Homo sapiens: one gene and its partner. The protein of the gene in region 2 interacts with the protein of the main gene of each other region in a biochemical or structural test. Each region holds a gene or a part of one and is shown on either strand. Other genes may lie near its edges.

The links.
Region 1: of the proteins of CRTC1 (region 2) and MAP3K1, one has a biochemical effect on the other in vitro, tested with the Homo sapiens proteins (one study listed by BioGRID).

Annotation. Positions count from the first base shown.
Region 1 is NC_000005.10:56,874,202-56,882,055, reverse strand, and holds part of MAP3K1 (mitogen-activated protein kinase kinase kinase 1), read right to left. Parts: intron 7,025-7,854; coding exon 6,746-7,024; intron 3,077-6,745; coding exon 2,955-3,076; intron 1,346-2,954; coding exon 1,254-1,345; intron 974-1,253; coding exon 784-973; intron 487-783; coding exon 1-486. UniProt on the Homo sapiens protein: Component of a protein kinase signal transduction cascade. Activates the ERK and JNK kinase pathways by phosphorylation of MAP2K1 and MAP2K4. May phosphorylate the MAPK8/JNK1 kinase.
Region 2 is NC_000019.10:18,678,989-18,686,875, forward strand, and holds the start of CRTC1 (CREB-regulated transcription coactivator 1), read left to right. Parts: upstream 1-4,691; 5' UTR 4,692-4,714; coding exon 4,715-4,840; intron 4,841-7,887. UniProt on the Homo sapiens protein: Transcriptional coactivator for CREB1 which activates transcription through both consensus and variant cAMP response element (CRE) sites.

The DNA of each region.
Region 1 (7,854 bases), on a different chromosome or scaffold from region 2:
GGTTGCTCTGTTGTTGTTGTTGTTGTTGTTGTTGAACTAGAAGGTCCTACTGAAATGCTGGCCAGTCTCTCAGAAATGTCCTCTGAACTGGCACTCAATTTTGTAGCACATAATCCTTTTCCAGTTTTCTCTAAATGGACTGTGCACTCAGGGGAACTGTTCTCTGTGGTTTCCAGATAGTTGTTGGGAACAGATGCCTGCAAGAAGCTGTCCTGTTGACCATCCAAAGTGTCTTCTACGCCCAACTGGATGGCTTCGGCAATTTCCACCTCATCTGCAATAGCCATCAAACGGCGACGCATCCTGGTGAAGTGAGTGGAACTGGAAACACTCAGCATTTCTAACAGTTTTGAAAACACATGGGGTACTGTAGTAACCATTCTTGCAGAACTCAAGTAGATCCTTCTGGAAAGTTTGCCAACCATTGAGTGGGAATTATCAATGGACTGCAAAGCAAAGGTTAAGAGGGACAGCAGCTTCTTATACCTGAAAGAAAAAAACATTCATTACCATATAAGTTCCAATTACTGAAAAATACATGGAAACTTAAAAAATGGTAGTAATTTACAGCATGTATACTTCAAAAACCATTTCAGCATAAAGTATCTATGAATTTTTAATTAAAGAGCCCAGACTTTGGGTTTTCATATGTCAATCAAATATTAAGGTATCAGCAACCTATTCATGCTCTGAGTCTTTCAAAAATCTAAAATGTGTCATTCTTGAGGAGGGTGTAGGGAGGGTAGGAAGATACAAGTAATACATTTTCAGAAGAAAAATTACCTGATTTCAACAGGCTCAGCTTGTGAAACATCAGTACTGACAATATGAGGATAAAATTCAGCAGGAAATTCCAACAACAGTCTATCTATAAGACAAAGGCGGCCAAGAAGTTCTTGCCAATTGTTTGATTCAGTTTGGTTTCCAAGAATACAATTTAAGACATAATCAACACCACCAATACCAATGGATCCTACAAAAAGGAAAGTAAAAATAAATGATTAAAAAATAGTGATATTAAAATCTAAAACAAGACATGATTAAATGGTGTAAGGCCAACAAAAATATTCTGAACTATTTTAAAGAATTTCTCTCTCAGAGTAATTCACATTTCTAACTGTAACACAGTGAATCAATTTATAAAATTACTTCAAAATCCTGTAAACTGCCTCATGAGAGATTATGAGATTAGACAAGGCTGCTCAGGAACATGATAAAATATGCTATATTCCTTTTAAGTGAAAAGTTATTACCAGCTTTTAGTATTTCTCTGCCAACTGCCAACTCTCCTGCTTGGCCTTTGCACAGTTCCAACAGTGTTGATATGGACAGCTGACTTGTGCGGCTAAAAACAAAGGAAAAGCAACATCAATCCTGGATCTTGGCTAAAACACTATACAATATTAGAGGAGTAATGTAATGCCTTGTGAAAAAGTGGAGAAATAATGTTTTCAGGAGTGTTTACTTTTCCACCACTAAAATCATATTAACAATGTCACCATAAGTAGTAATATTCATTTATTAGGTCTAATTTCGTAAATTTAACATATCCCCTATGTTAAGCACAGAATTTTCAACAATGGCTCTTTGCAAGTACTGATTTAAATACCAAATCAGATAAAAGTCTTATATTTTGTTAAAAGAAAAAACAAGGACCTTGATATTTTGATTTCTGAACTTTCACTAAGAAGCTCTTGAATTAAAAACAAAACCTTCCTATCCAAAAACCCTCCATTTCCTTACATAGCCAAAATGAGGTCTGAATATTATAAAATCTCTCTACAGTATTTCTTATGTTCAGTCATTCAGGTGACCAGGTAAACAACCTAAGTTTGGAGTTTCAAAAAGTGAGCAGCATAACAAATACCATGAGAACACTGAATTCTCAGAAATATACCTATTCTAATATTTAAAAATGACATTTTTCCTATGCATTTTGCAAATTACTTGTTAATTTGCAATATTTTACAGATATACAATGTTTTCTCTAAGCAACAAGGAAACATCCAATATTTTCAATCTATAGAGAAAACAATAGAGGCAAAAGACAGACTTCATGATATGAGAAATTCGTTAAAGGTAGGTACCTAATTTTTGAGATCCTGTGCAAACTAAGTCATTATGACTTGCAGAGGAAGAGAAAGGTTGTACTGAGAGAACTCTAAATGGGTGAAATGGAAGAGGCAACAGAAGGGAGATTCAACACTTCTTGCTAACCAAGATCTGCTGGGATAGAAAGAAATAGGAACTACCAAATAACTGTTCACAGTAGCTGTGATTATTAAATGAAAATTGATCTTTTCCTCCTATTTTATGGAAGGGGAAAATAAAAGAGAACCATTGGTCTGAAAAAAGCATGGCTTGTACTCATCTTTACTGTCATTGTACCTCAATTCTCTACTTCATATTTTTCTTTCCAGTTAGGGTTATTCTTGTTCCCTGTCAATTTTTAAGGATATTGCAGGAATATAAAAAATCTAAAAATTTTTTGACAAAACTGTCATAAGTAGAGTAAAATTCCACTACACTGAAAATGAGATGGATTTGTTAATTTTTTATCCTGATAATAAGGCATATGCAGGTGTAATGATCTTACTGGTTCCTATTCTGTGTAACCCATACTCTAATATGAGATTATAACTTATAGATATAAATGTCAACTACTGTTCTTATCGACTGGTCTTCAGATTATGAATGTTACTAAAGAGAGTAAATCACAATACAATAATGTGGAGATCCATGCAGTTTGTTTGCCTGGCTTTTACTTGCCAGTAGTTCTTTCCGCCAGTCCTTAAGAGCTTTATGCTGCATTTTCATTTTAAATCTCACATTAAAAGACAATGTTCAAAGACTCATTTAATAAAATGTATCAGATATTCACACTAGGTGTGAGGCTTGCTGCGAGGCACTTTTAAGACAAGAGGGTTTGAAGTGATTCATCAATAAAGCCTTACCTATTGGCATCTGCACATTTGACTAGGATGGTGTCTACAACTGGCTGGAGAAGTCTCTGAAGTTTGATTCTTTCCGCTAAACTGTGGCAAGGAGTATATACCAGCATGGCTCTCAATGTTTTCTAAGGAAAAAAATCTGAAGGTCAGTTTATGTACACTTAAAAAGCATCAGAGATAATGGCCTAATTTGAGACAATTTGAGCAACAAAATAAGTAGACAGGAATGGATTATAACCCATAGAATAAAATAAGAATTCCATGCTTCTGTAATAATACAACTAACTAACAAAATAAATGAATGGGGCAGGAAGGAATTTTCTGAACTCTTTTCTCTGCAATTTTTAAAAGTCTGAATTCATTTCAAGATGAAAAGTTAAAAAAAATTATTTTAAAAAAGAAAATGAGAACAGGCGCCAACCTGAAAGAGCTCCCAATGGTCAAGGCTGGAATAATTAGAGCAACAAAACAAATGATGGTAGTACTGGGTTGCAACCCACAGAACAAAATGAATACCCAGGAGCCTACACCAATACAAATTAAAAATTGAATAGGTATATAAACAGAGAAGCTCTTCTTTATAGAATAATTCCAATTAATTAATGTAGAAGGAATGAGGAAAATAGAAAATCACCACTAGAACACCATTTTTTAAATTATACTTTAGTTGTGGGGTACATGTGCAGAACGTGCAGGTTTGTTACATAGGTACACACATGCCATGGTGGTTTGCTGCATCCATCGACCCGTCATCTACATTAGGTATTTCTTGTAATGCTATCCCTCCTCTACCTCCCGACCCCCGACAGACTCCAGTGTGTGATGCTCCCCTCCCTGTGCCCAAGAGAGCACCATTTTTAATGGTGTAGTAATAACTGCTATAGGCAAGATCCACAAATGCTTTTAAAATCAGTGGACAAAATTTTGAGGTGAAATAGGGTATTTGCATAATCTCAAAGTAACTCTCACAAGATATTTAGGAATATTAACTTTACAGCAGGGAAACTTGGTAGACATTACCTTAACTGACAGCATCACCAATAATAAAAGCCATGGGCATATGTACCCACTGATATGATGCACTAAGAAAGGCCTGTCACCTCTGTGGCGTTCTTGTGAAAAATACGTAACTTCCATCTAATCATGAGAAAACATCAGATAAACCCAAATTGAGGGATATTCTACAAAATAACTGGCCAGTAAACTTTGAAAGTATCTGTCAAGGTCATTAAAAACCAGGAAAGGCTGAGGAACTGTCATGGATGAGAAGACATTAAGGGGACATGGTGACTAAATGCACTGTGGGATCCTGGATTGGATCCTGGAACAGAAAAAAGACAACAGCAGAAAAACTGGTGAAATCTGAATAAAGTCTGCAGTTTAGCTATGAAGGGCACTGTTGGGCAACTGAAGAGATTTGAGTATGAACTTTATAGTACAAAACAGTATTGTGATTAATGTTAATGTGCTGACTGTATATGGAAGAATAAATGGAATTATGTATTTGGTTTTAAGAGACACATATTTAAGTGTCATGATGCTGCAAAAAACTCTCAAACGATTCAGCAAAAAAAAAAAAAAAAATTATATATGCAGAGGGAGGGAGAGGAAAAAAAGGAAGAGACAGAGGAAGGGGAGATAAGAGAAAGGGAAAGGGTGAGCCTTAACAGCAGGAGCCATTTCTGCCTCCATGGAGCCTGGTATCCTTTATACAATCTTTGTGCTCTAGGATCTCATAAGCTAGTTGGGAAACAGTCTGAACTTAAGAAGAAACAACCACAACAGTAAGGCAGTTACGGTGTGTACAAAAAGAGTAACACAGCAAAGGCTTTGCAGAAAAGGAACTAGCAAAAAGAGGATTTTATTTAGTCAAGTATGCCTGAAGGTTTGTGTTGGAAAATACTAAGTAAGAGGCAAAATATTGGGCCAATTGGTCTTTATTCTATAGTATGCTGGTCCCTCCAGATGCTACATGAAAAAACAAGGTGTAGCAAAATAACTCTGGGAAACAATGCATTCTATCCTTTGATCCTTTAGGTTCACAATGTACATTAGCTTACTGAAGGATCCTAGAAGCCTTTCAGTCAACAGACCTAGTTATCCTTGTGTAATCCAGTGTTCACCAATCTTAACTGAATACGGGATTCTTTCTTCAGGGAACTTTTCACAACCCTGCCAAACTTCCACAGAATATGCTTTAGGAATGTCAAAGAAACAGAAACCTCTAAAGGTTTCTAAATGATTTGGGGGATAATCCAAGTTGTGTTTAAGAAATAATGATAACTATTATATAATATTAAATGTTCTTACAATGTGCCAGGCATATGGTTGAAAGTTTCTACATAATCTAATTTCAAACCTAAAAGGTATTTTCATTATTTTATGGGTGAGAAAACTGAAGTTTATTTAAGAGAGGTTAAGTAACCTTCATAAAGCCATCGTGCTAGTAAAAGGGAGAACCAGAATTTGAATCCAGGTCTGTCTCTATGATCTTGATCATGTGTTCAGATTGCCTAGGCTAGTCCAACTTTAACCAGCACATTATGCAAGCATTGTGGTTGGAATGATAAATTATGAGATCACTCAATTGTGACTCCAAACCCATGTTCGTAACTGTCATGCTGTATTACCTGTCAAGAAGATTCATTAGGCCCAATCGGTAGAGGATGCATTAGAAAAAGACTGAGGGAGGAAGCCTACAGACTGCTCATGAATTTTAAGAACAGACTAGATAAGAATTAAAGTAGTGATTCTGAATTGGGGGCAGTTTTGACCACTGGAGACATTTGGCAATGCCTGGAGACATTCTTGGTTGTCATAACTGGGGGCATGATCGGGTGGGGGTGGGTTTGCTCCTGGTATCTAATGGGTAGAGGCCAGAGATGCTGCCACAGTACACACATGACAACATCCCTGGCCCTCCCCCCACCCTCCAACAAATAATTATCTAACAAATGTTAATAGTACTGAGGCTGAGAAGCCCTAAAGAGACATATACGCAGAATGGAGAAAGTCCAGTTAGTCTCCTAAATTACCTCCTTGTCACTCTATTCCACCCATGAAAGAACTTTTAACAGGTTAAACTGGAAAACAACTCAATGATCTATGTCATGGAACCCTTTTCTTTGAAAAGGCTTTTGAATCTCCACATGACAATGTTTATTAAAAATCAATCAAAATGTTTATTAAAAACATATCTTCCTTAATATCTGATAAATTTTTTAAAAAATCAGAATAACGTTGATGACTCTGCCATCCCAAAAAGCATTTTTAATTTGGTCATGTATAAGGTATCTGCTCAGAAAAATGTACAGATATGAACAGCAAGACATTAAAAAAATCTTTAAAAATTAGCAAGCTTGTCTAGCTCACCCTATTTGTTGTTGTTCTGTTTTGTTTTGTTTTGTTTTAGGCTTTAGCAGCCTGAAGCCATGGTTTTTAGTCTGTCTCTAGTGGTAAGTGGAAAAGGAGGATGAGGAAGGAGCTTTACTGGCCCAAACAGAAACTAAGAAACCATGACTATATTCTCTCCCTTGGATACCCCTGCAAAGCCTTTAAAACAATGAAACTAAAAAGTAAAACAGTTATATAAGAAACCTTGGACATCATAAAAATCAGTAAAATTCAAATAAACAAAACAAAAGCTGTAATTTCCTGGAATTATGGAATAAAAATAAAATTTGGATTTTCCAAAATTAGGTAAAGTAGCTTTATTGTATCTTAAAAACACTATCTACGAACCATCAAAAAACCCCAAACCCATAATGATATGATTATGGAATAAAGCTACTTACTAAAGCAGCAACGTACACTTTGTAGACAGGGTCAGCACAGACCATTGACAGAACGCTGCAGCATGCCTCCACCACATCTCCTGAGATACTGGTCTGGGAAGACCCACTGGTGGCTCCCCCACTCGGGCTGCTTCCACTGCTGCCCCCAGAATTTCCAGTGCTCTCCCCATTTGCCAACAGCAGGGCCCCACTGACATCATGGGAAAGACGCCTGAGGGCCATCTCTCTCACATTCCAGTTTCTAGAAAATAAGCAGCCAACGAGTTCCATTCCAAACACCTGTATCAAACACACACGATGAATTCAATGTAAAGAAAAGCTTATGGACCCAGAGCATTTTGAGTTTAGCATCATTTTTGATTACTACGTAAAAACTGGACATTTCTGAAATCTTTACCATCCTTCACAACTTCAAATATATCCAGCCACTTAAGCATCATAAGGAAGAATTTTATACTCAAGTTTAACTGATAATTATCCAAAGTCATTAATATTTATTAGCTCAGGTAAAATTAATAATAAGCTCCATTAAGTCACTAGATGGCTATACATACATTCTATGCCTCTACTGTCCCACATGCTTACCAAAACGCCAAAAAACTGTGAAAACCTCAACTCTGTATTCATATTAAGGTAGTTTAAAGAGAAAAACTGGAGCAAGATTAAGAAAACAAACAAACAAACAAAAAACAAATCAAAAAAAGCACCAGGAGAAGGTTTCAAGAGATATAGAGTATTTCTCTTACAGACAAGAGCAATAAGCAAAACACATTTAATTGGTTTTTGTCTGTATAAAAAGGTTTAAAAAACTAGACAAAACAGGTAGGACTGTAAAACGAATGGAGTGGACAAATCAAACAACTGAAGAAAAAATGCTTGTGTTCGAGTAAGCAAAGGATAAATGTAGACGTAGAATTATAGTATATGCTGTTATCGTCGTCAATACCATGCCCCAAAAGCCAGAGTCCCTACAGTGAGGAAAGGGTGAATGGTCTTGACATTATGGGCCAATTAGCTAAAAGTAAGCTTAATACCTAAGATAATTCATTATGTGAAAAATGCCTAAATATTAAAGATGAATAAACACAACTTTTGAAAAACAGATCATA
Region 2 (7,887 bases):
AGATACATGTAATTGATTAGGGTAAGTGGCATCAATTACGGAGCACTTCTTAGAAGTAAGGCAGTTGACACTTATTAACTTCATTTATTTTATTTATTTATTTATGTATTTTTTTGAGATGGAGTTTCACTTTTGTTGCCCAGGCTGGAGTGCAATGGCGCAATCTTGGCTCACTGCAACCTCCACCTCCTAGGTTCAAGCGATTCTCTTGCCTCAGCCTCCCGAGTAGCTGAGATTACAGGCATGTGCCACCACGCCCGGCTAATATTGTATTTTTAGTAGAGACGGGGTTTCTCCATGTTGGTCAGGCTGGTCTCAAACTCCTGACCTCAGGTGAGCCGCCCGCCTCAGCCTCCCAAAGTGCTGGGATTACAGGCGTGAGCCACCACGCCTGGCTAACTTCATTTAAAGCCTACAAAACTCAGTGTGTGAAAGCAGCTGAGGTCGGCTGTGAGGCCTGAGTTTTGGTGCATAAGTTGCTAGGGCAGCTGCTGTCCCTGCTCTCTGTCTTTATTTCTTCTCTGACCTCACAGGATGCTGTCAAGAACTAGAAGCCGGTCAGGCGTGGTGGCTCACGCCTATAACCCCAGCACTTTGGGATGCCAAGGTGGGAGTATCATCTGAGGTCAGGAGTTCGAGACCAGCCTGGCCAACATGGTGAAACCCCATCTCTACTAAAAATACAAAAATTAGCTGGGCGTAGTGGCGCACGCTTGTAGTCCCAGGTACTCTGGAGGCTGATGCAGGAGAATCACTTGAACCTGGGAGGCGGAGGTTGCAGTGAGCCAAGATCGTACCACTGCACTCTAGCCTGGGAGACCTAGCGAGACTCTGTTTAAAAAAAAAAAAAAAAAAAAAAAGAACTAGAAGCCACATATGTAGCGGGCCCAGTCTCGCATTGGACTCACAGAAGCTGCAGTCTCAGTCAGAACCAGGAACAGAAAAAGGACTTGAAATAGATTTAGGCAGGCCAGGCACGGTGGTGCACACATGTAATCTCAGCACTTTGGGAGGCTGAGGGGGGCGGATCACTTGAGCCCAGGAGTTTGAGACCAGCCTGAGCAACAGGATGAATCCTGTCTCTACAAAAACCACAAAACATTAGCCAGGCATGATGATGCACACCTGTAGTCCCAGCTACCTGGAAGGCTGAGGTGGGGGGATCACCTGAGCCTAAGGGTTGGGGCTTCAGTGAGCATGATCATGCCACTGCACTCCAGCCTGGGCAACAAAGTGAGACCCTGTCTGAAAAAACAAACAAACAAACAAACAAGAAAACAAATAGACAAGCACAAAAGGGAATAAATTTTTGGCCTACATAACTTAAAAGGCAGGTGAGTCTAGCTTCAGGAATGGCTGGATCCAGAAGCTCAGGCTGGAGTACAGTAATGTGATCTCGGCTCACTGCAACCTCTGCCTCCTGGATTCAAGCTGTTCTCCTGCCTCAGCCTCCCAAGTAGCTGGGATTAGAGGCATGTGCCACCATGCCCAGCTAATTTTGTATTTTTAGTAGAGATGGAGTTTCCCTATGTTGGTCAGGCTGGTCTCAAGCTCCTGACCTCAAGTGATCCACCCACCTTGGCCTCCCAAAGTGCTGGGATTACAGTTGTGAGCCACCGTGCCAGGCCTGGTTCTGTTTTCCTCTGTGTGGGTCCACTCTTTTGGCCCAGCTGAACTAATCTTTTGTTTTTTTTTGAGACAAAGTCTCCCTCTGTTGCCCAGGCTAGAGTGAAGTGGCGCTATCTTGGCTCACTGCAACCTCCACCTCCTGGGTTCAAGTGATTTTCCTGCCTCAGCCTCCCCAGCAGCTGGAATTACAGGCGTGTGCCACCGCGTCTGGCTAATTTTTTTTGTATTTTTAGTCGAGATGGGGTTTCACCATGTTGGCCAGTCTGGTCTCAAACTCCTGACCTCAGGTGTTCTGCCCGCCTCTGCCTCCAAAAGTGTAGGGATTACAGTCATGACCCAGCGCCCAGCCTGTTTTTTGTTTGTTTGTTTGTTTGTTTGTTTGAGACAGGGTCTTGCTCTGTCACCCAGGCTGGAGTGCAGTGCATTATCATAGCTCACTGCAGCCTCCATCTCCCAGGCTCAAGCAATCCTCCTGTCTCAGCCTCCTGAGTAGCTGGGATTATAAGCAGGCATCACCACGCGCAGGTAATTTTTTTATTTTTAGTGGAGATTAAATCTCGCTATGTTGCCCAGGCTGGTCTCAAGCTCCTGGGCTCAAATGATCCTCCTGCCTCGGCCTCCCAAGTTCTGGGATTACAGGCATGAGCCACAACACCCAGCCTGGCCTGAACCAATCTTGATGGCCAGCACAATGGGCTATGCTGATTGGCCAAGACTTCCACCTTAGGGAGGGGTGTTTGTGTGGTGGGAGAGTGGTGAGACCAGCCATTCACATCTCACAGACTGAAAGTCAGAACCAGTGTTCCCCAAATAAGGGTTGTTGACACTAAAAAGTTGAGGGAGTGGGTGGGGTTGAGAGAAGGAATATGCTTGTTAGGCAAAAAGTATAGGAGCTTACCAAAGTGCGCAAAATCATATCAAGAAGGAAGATGGCCGGGTGCGGTGGCTCATGTCTGTAATCCCAGCACTTTGGGAGGCTGAGGCGGGCGGATCACCTGAGGTCAGAAGTTCAAGACCAGCCTGGCCAACACGGTGAAACCCTGTCTCTACTAAAAATACAAAAAGTAGCCGGGTGTGGTGGTGGGTTCCTGTAATTCCAGCTACTTGGGAGGCTGAGGCAGGAGAATCACTTAAACCCCAGAGGCAGAGGTTGCAGTGAGCTGAGTCTGTGCCACTGCACTCCAGCCTGGGAAACAGAGACTCCGTCTCAAAAAAAAAAAAAAAAAAAAAATCCCATAAAAATTAGCTGAGCATCATGGTGCATGCCTGTAATCCCAGCTACTTGGGAGGCTGAGGTAGGAGAATCGCTTGAACCTGAGAGGCAGAGATTGCAGTGAGCCAAGGTTGCGCCACTGCACTCTAGCCTGGGCGACAGAGTGAGACTCTGTCTCAAAACAAAGATAAAGTAGGGCAGTGGCAATATCCAAGGCATTCTAAATGAAAATCGATATATATATATATATATTTAACATGAGCATTTTATTACCTGTTGTAAAGCATGAATCAAAGCATGTTTGGAAGATGTCAGCATCCCCTCCAGCCATCCTCAGTCCAATAAAATGTGTGCTTGTTGTGCCATTAGAGCCATCATCAATTCCCCCAGCTGACCTTCCTAGCTTCCACCCAGCCCATACTCTGAAATCCCTGCAGCCTCCTGAATATAAACTTTCAATATTGGTGGTTGGGGGTCCCTCTCTTGAGGGAGGGAGGGTTAGAGTCCCTCCTGCTTCCCTGGCTTACCACTCTGCCATCGGGGGAGTCTCTGCTCCTTCCTTCACTGCTGAGTCTTGATGGGATTTCTGGACCCTTCTGTTAGCACCTTGTTGCAAAATAGAGATCCTTGAACAAGACTGGACTGGAGAAGTATGCAGAGGGAAGGCTGAAGCTCTGTAACTCCAGTTCTTTGGGCTCAGGTATCCAGAGAATAGCAATATGCCCATTGCAAGGGAATGGGAAAAAGTAGTCGTCGGCTGGACATGGTGGCTCACGCCTGTAATCCCAGCACTTAGGGAGGGCGAGGCGGGTGGATCACCTGCTGTCAGGAGTTCAAGACCAGCCTGGCCAACATGGTCTTTAGTCTCTACTGAAAATAAAAAAATTAGCTGGGCGTGGTGGCGCCTGCCTGTAATCCTAGCTACTGGAGAGGCTGAGGCAGGAGAATGGCTTGAACCTGGGAGGAGGAGGTTGCAGTGAGCCGAGATCGCACCACTGCATTCCAGTCTGGGCGACAAGGGCAAAACTCGGTCTCAAGGGAAAAAAAAAAAAAAAAAAGAAAGTCGTTAAGGGCAACAGCTAGGTTTATGGACTGAGAGAGCCGATTGCAGGGTTCAGGTCTTAGCTAAGATAACTTTCCGCCTCCCTGTCTGTGGTGGCTGCAGGAGCCTCCCTCCCTAATGTTCTGTGGCTGGCCACTGGTCTTATTTACCGCATCACATTTACCTCCATCTGAAAAGTTCTTGGTTATTTGTGTGCTATGTCTGCCCCCTCTCTGACTGTACACTCCATAAGGGCAGGGATCACCTCTGCTTGTTCACGCCTGTACTCCAGTTTGCCTGGCACATAGTAGGTGCTCAGTAAATATTCCTTGAATGAATGAATGCATGAGTGACCAACGCCCTAGTCTGTTTTCAGAGCTCTTAGTCCAAACCCAGGTTCAACTTGGGGTGCCACCAATCCTTGCGGGGGGGGGTGCCTGGCCCCACCCTTGTGAATTGGGAGGATCTGGGTCAGGCCGTCTCCCTCTTGGGGGCTCCAGTGCCCCAGCCGATCCGCGGTCCTTGTCCAACAGCCCAGAGGCCGCTGTCCAGCGGGCCAGGAGGCGGATCACTGCGTCGGCGTTGAAATTTCCACTCGCGCTCCACCGCCCTTCCCGCGGGCCCCGAGCGCGCGCCTGGGCGCGCGCATGCGCCTTCGCCCCCGCGCCGCGCGCCGCTCCTGTGCGCCTGCGCCGCGCTCACGACCGCCGGCGCGCCTGCGCACTGCTCGCCGCCCGTGGGCCCAGCCGGCGCTTGCGCGGTGGCACGGGCGAGTGGGGGGGCGAGGAGGTGGAGGAGGAGGAGGAGGAGGAGGAGGTGGCGGCGAGAAGATGGCGACTTCGAACAATCCGCGGAAATTCAGCGAGAAGATCGCGCTGCACAATCAGAAGCAGGCGGAGGAGACGGCGGCCTTCGAGGAGGTCATGAAGGACCTGAGCCTGACGCGGGCCGCGCGGGTAAGGGGGCTGCCCGCGCCGACCCTTCAGGGCCGGCGGAGGGAGGGAGGGGGCGCGTGTCCGGCGCGTGCACGGGGCGGGGTGGGGGGGGGCGCGGCGGGGGCGGGGCGCGCGCGGCGGGGGCGGGGCTTGGCACGGCCCGAGGGGGACAGGTGTCCCCACGCCCCGGGCGTCGTGGGCGGGACAGGTGACCCCACAAAATCCATACCTGATGGGGTACAGGTGCCCTGCATCACTGCTCCCCGGAGGAGACAGGGGCCTCTATATCATTACTACTAGGAGGGAACAGGTGCTAGTACCTCGTCGTTACCTGACAGGGGACAGGTGTCCCTACATCATTGTTACCCGAGGGGGACAGGTGCCCCACATTATTACTACCTGGAAGGGACAGGTGCCCCCGCATCATTGCTACCTGGGGGGGCAGGATGACACAGGTGTATGAGCTGGGTGCTGCTTGCAAGCACCATTGGTAGCTGGGGGTGAGGGTGCAAGTGCCCCCGCATCCTTGCTACCTGGGAGGGACAGATGCCCTCCCATTCTTGCTACCTGAGGGGGACCGGTGTCTCTACGTCATGGTTACCTGTGCCTTTACTCCCTGGGTGTTGGGGGAGGAACGGATGTCCCCACTTGCAGAGCTGAGGTGGGACAGGGATCTCTCCCTCTTGGACAGCTGAGGGAATGGTCAGATCCTGTCCCCCAGGGGGTCCAGAGGGGGGCCAAGAAGGCAGATTGTGCTCAGTCCTGGAACTTGGAGTGGAGACAGCTGCCCCTTCTCCATGTAGCCCATATGGTGGGGGCCAGGTGATGTTCCTCCCAGTGGAACAGGGGATGCTGACCACAGCCCCTGCCCTCTCAGGACCAGGGTGGAGGGCCAGGTCTGCCTCAGGTGGCTGGGCGCATTTGGTGTGCAGGGGCAGGCCAGGTTCTGCCAGGCTCCTGTCTGGCAGAGCAGATACCCTGCAAATCTCACCTGGGAAGTTGCTGTGGGCCAGGAGCAGGGGCTTGGGGCTGGTGTCTGAGCACGGCAAGGCACCCGAGTTCCTCAGGCCTCAGTTTCTTGTCAGGCATTCTAGCAAGACCTTCCTCTTGGGGCAGGGTGGTGAGCACACTCTGCAAAGGTGATGCTGAATCTCCACTTTGTTCTTGCAGTGTGGTGAGACCTCTCTCCTGCATCCTGGGGCCTTGGGGAGGGTTTGGGTGGGCTTTGCAGATGCTCGTATCCCTGGTTTCCAGATTCAGCCACTGATGTGACTGGCTCAGGTAGACTTAACCTCAGTCTCTGATTCCTTAGGTAGCACTTTCAGTCTGTGTTACTTTGTAACTAGTTGTTTGTTTCTCTGAGAGATTGTGACCTTATAGACTAGGATTTGTGTCTTCATTTCTGTGTTGGTAATGATTGGGAGCTCACTGTCACCCAGGTACTGCTTTAGGCATGCTCGGTGAGTGTGCCACATCTGTCCTCCCAGCTCCAAGCAGCTACATTCTTGCTCAGGATGTAGAGAAAGAGATGGCTGGTGAATGAATGAATGAAAAAAAAATAAGAAAATGGCCAGGTGTGGTGGCTCATGCCTGTAATCCCAGCACTTTGGAAGGCTGAGGCAGTGGATCACCTGAGGTTAGGAGTTCGAGACCAGCCTGGCCAACGTGGTGAAACCCTGTCTGTACTAAAAATATAAAAATTAGCCGGACGTGGTGGTAGCTACCTGTAATCCCAGCTACTGGGGAGGTTGAGGTGGGAGAATCACTTGAACCTGGGAGGTGGAGGTTGCAGTGAGCCGAGATCATGTTACTGTACTCCAGCCTGGGTGACAAGAGTGAAACTCCATTTCAAAAAAAGAAAATAAGAAGAAAGTGTGCAACTTGAGCATCCTTCCACGTGAGTGTCCCCCACATATCAGGGCTTCTGAGGCAGGAGTGGCCACTTCTTTTTGTCTCCAGCACATGGTGTGTGCTGGCATGCAGTTGTTGTCAAATGTTTGCAGTGTGACCGGAAGAAAGGGGTCACAGTAGGTTCATGGGTGTCATTCTGATTAGAAGTCCAGTTTCTGCGTGGGATTGGAAATAGATTATTGTTGTTGAAAACATCTCTTTAAAATAATAGCTTTATTGAGATATGATTCACACATCATACAATTTACTTGTTTAAAGTGTACAGTTTGGTGGTTTTTAGTATATTCACAGAGTTGTGCAACCACCCCTATTTTGTAATTCCAGAACATTTTTTATCCACCCAGAAAGAAACCCCGTCCCCATTAACAGTCACTCCCCATTCCCCCTCCCCTAGCCCCTGGCAAGCACTAAGCTGTCTTCTGTCTCTGTGGGTTTTCCTATTCTGGGCATTTTATATAAATGGAATCACACAACACGTGGCCTTTTGTGACTGGCATCTTTCACTCAGCGTCATGTTTTCAAGGTTCATCTCTGTAGTATCATGGATCAGTGCTTCGTTCCTTTTTAGGGTCAAGTAATATTCCGTTGTATGGATATATTGTATTTGTTTATCCATTCATCAGTCAATGAATTTAGAAAAATTCTGAGGCCAAGTGCAGTGGCTCACACTTGTAATCCCAGCACTTTGGGAGGCCAAGGTGAGTGGATGACCTGAGGTCAGGAGTTCGAGACCAGCCTGGCCAACATGGTGAAACCCGTCTCCACTAAAAATACAAAAATTAGTCGGGTGTGGTGGCACATGCCTGTAATCCCAGCTACTCGGGAGGCTTAGACAGAAGAATCGCTTGAACCTGGGAAGTGGAGGTTGCAGTGAGCTGAGATTGTGTCACTGTACTCCAGCCTTGGCAACAGAGTGAGACTCCATCTCAAAACAAAAACAAAAACAAGATTCTGAAGATATGCAGGTGGCAGTTCTTTCAGCCCTGGAAACCATTTCCCATCTTCCTCATCACCTGGGGTCAGGGGAGCATGGGCTCTGGGCAGAGGTGAGTTCACACTAGATTTTTAGACACAAAGCATTGTTCTCTTTCTGGGGCAGGGGGTGATTCTGCCCCCCAGGGGACACTTGGTGATGTCTGGAGACATTTTGGGTCATC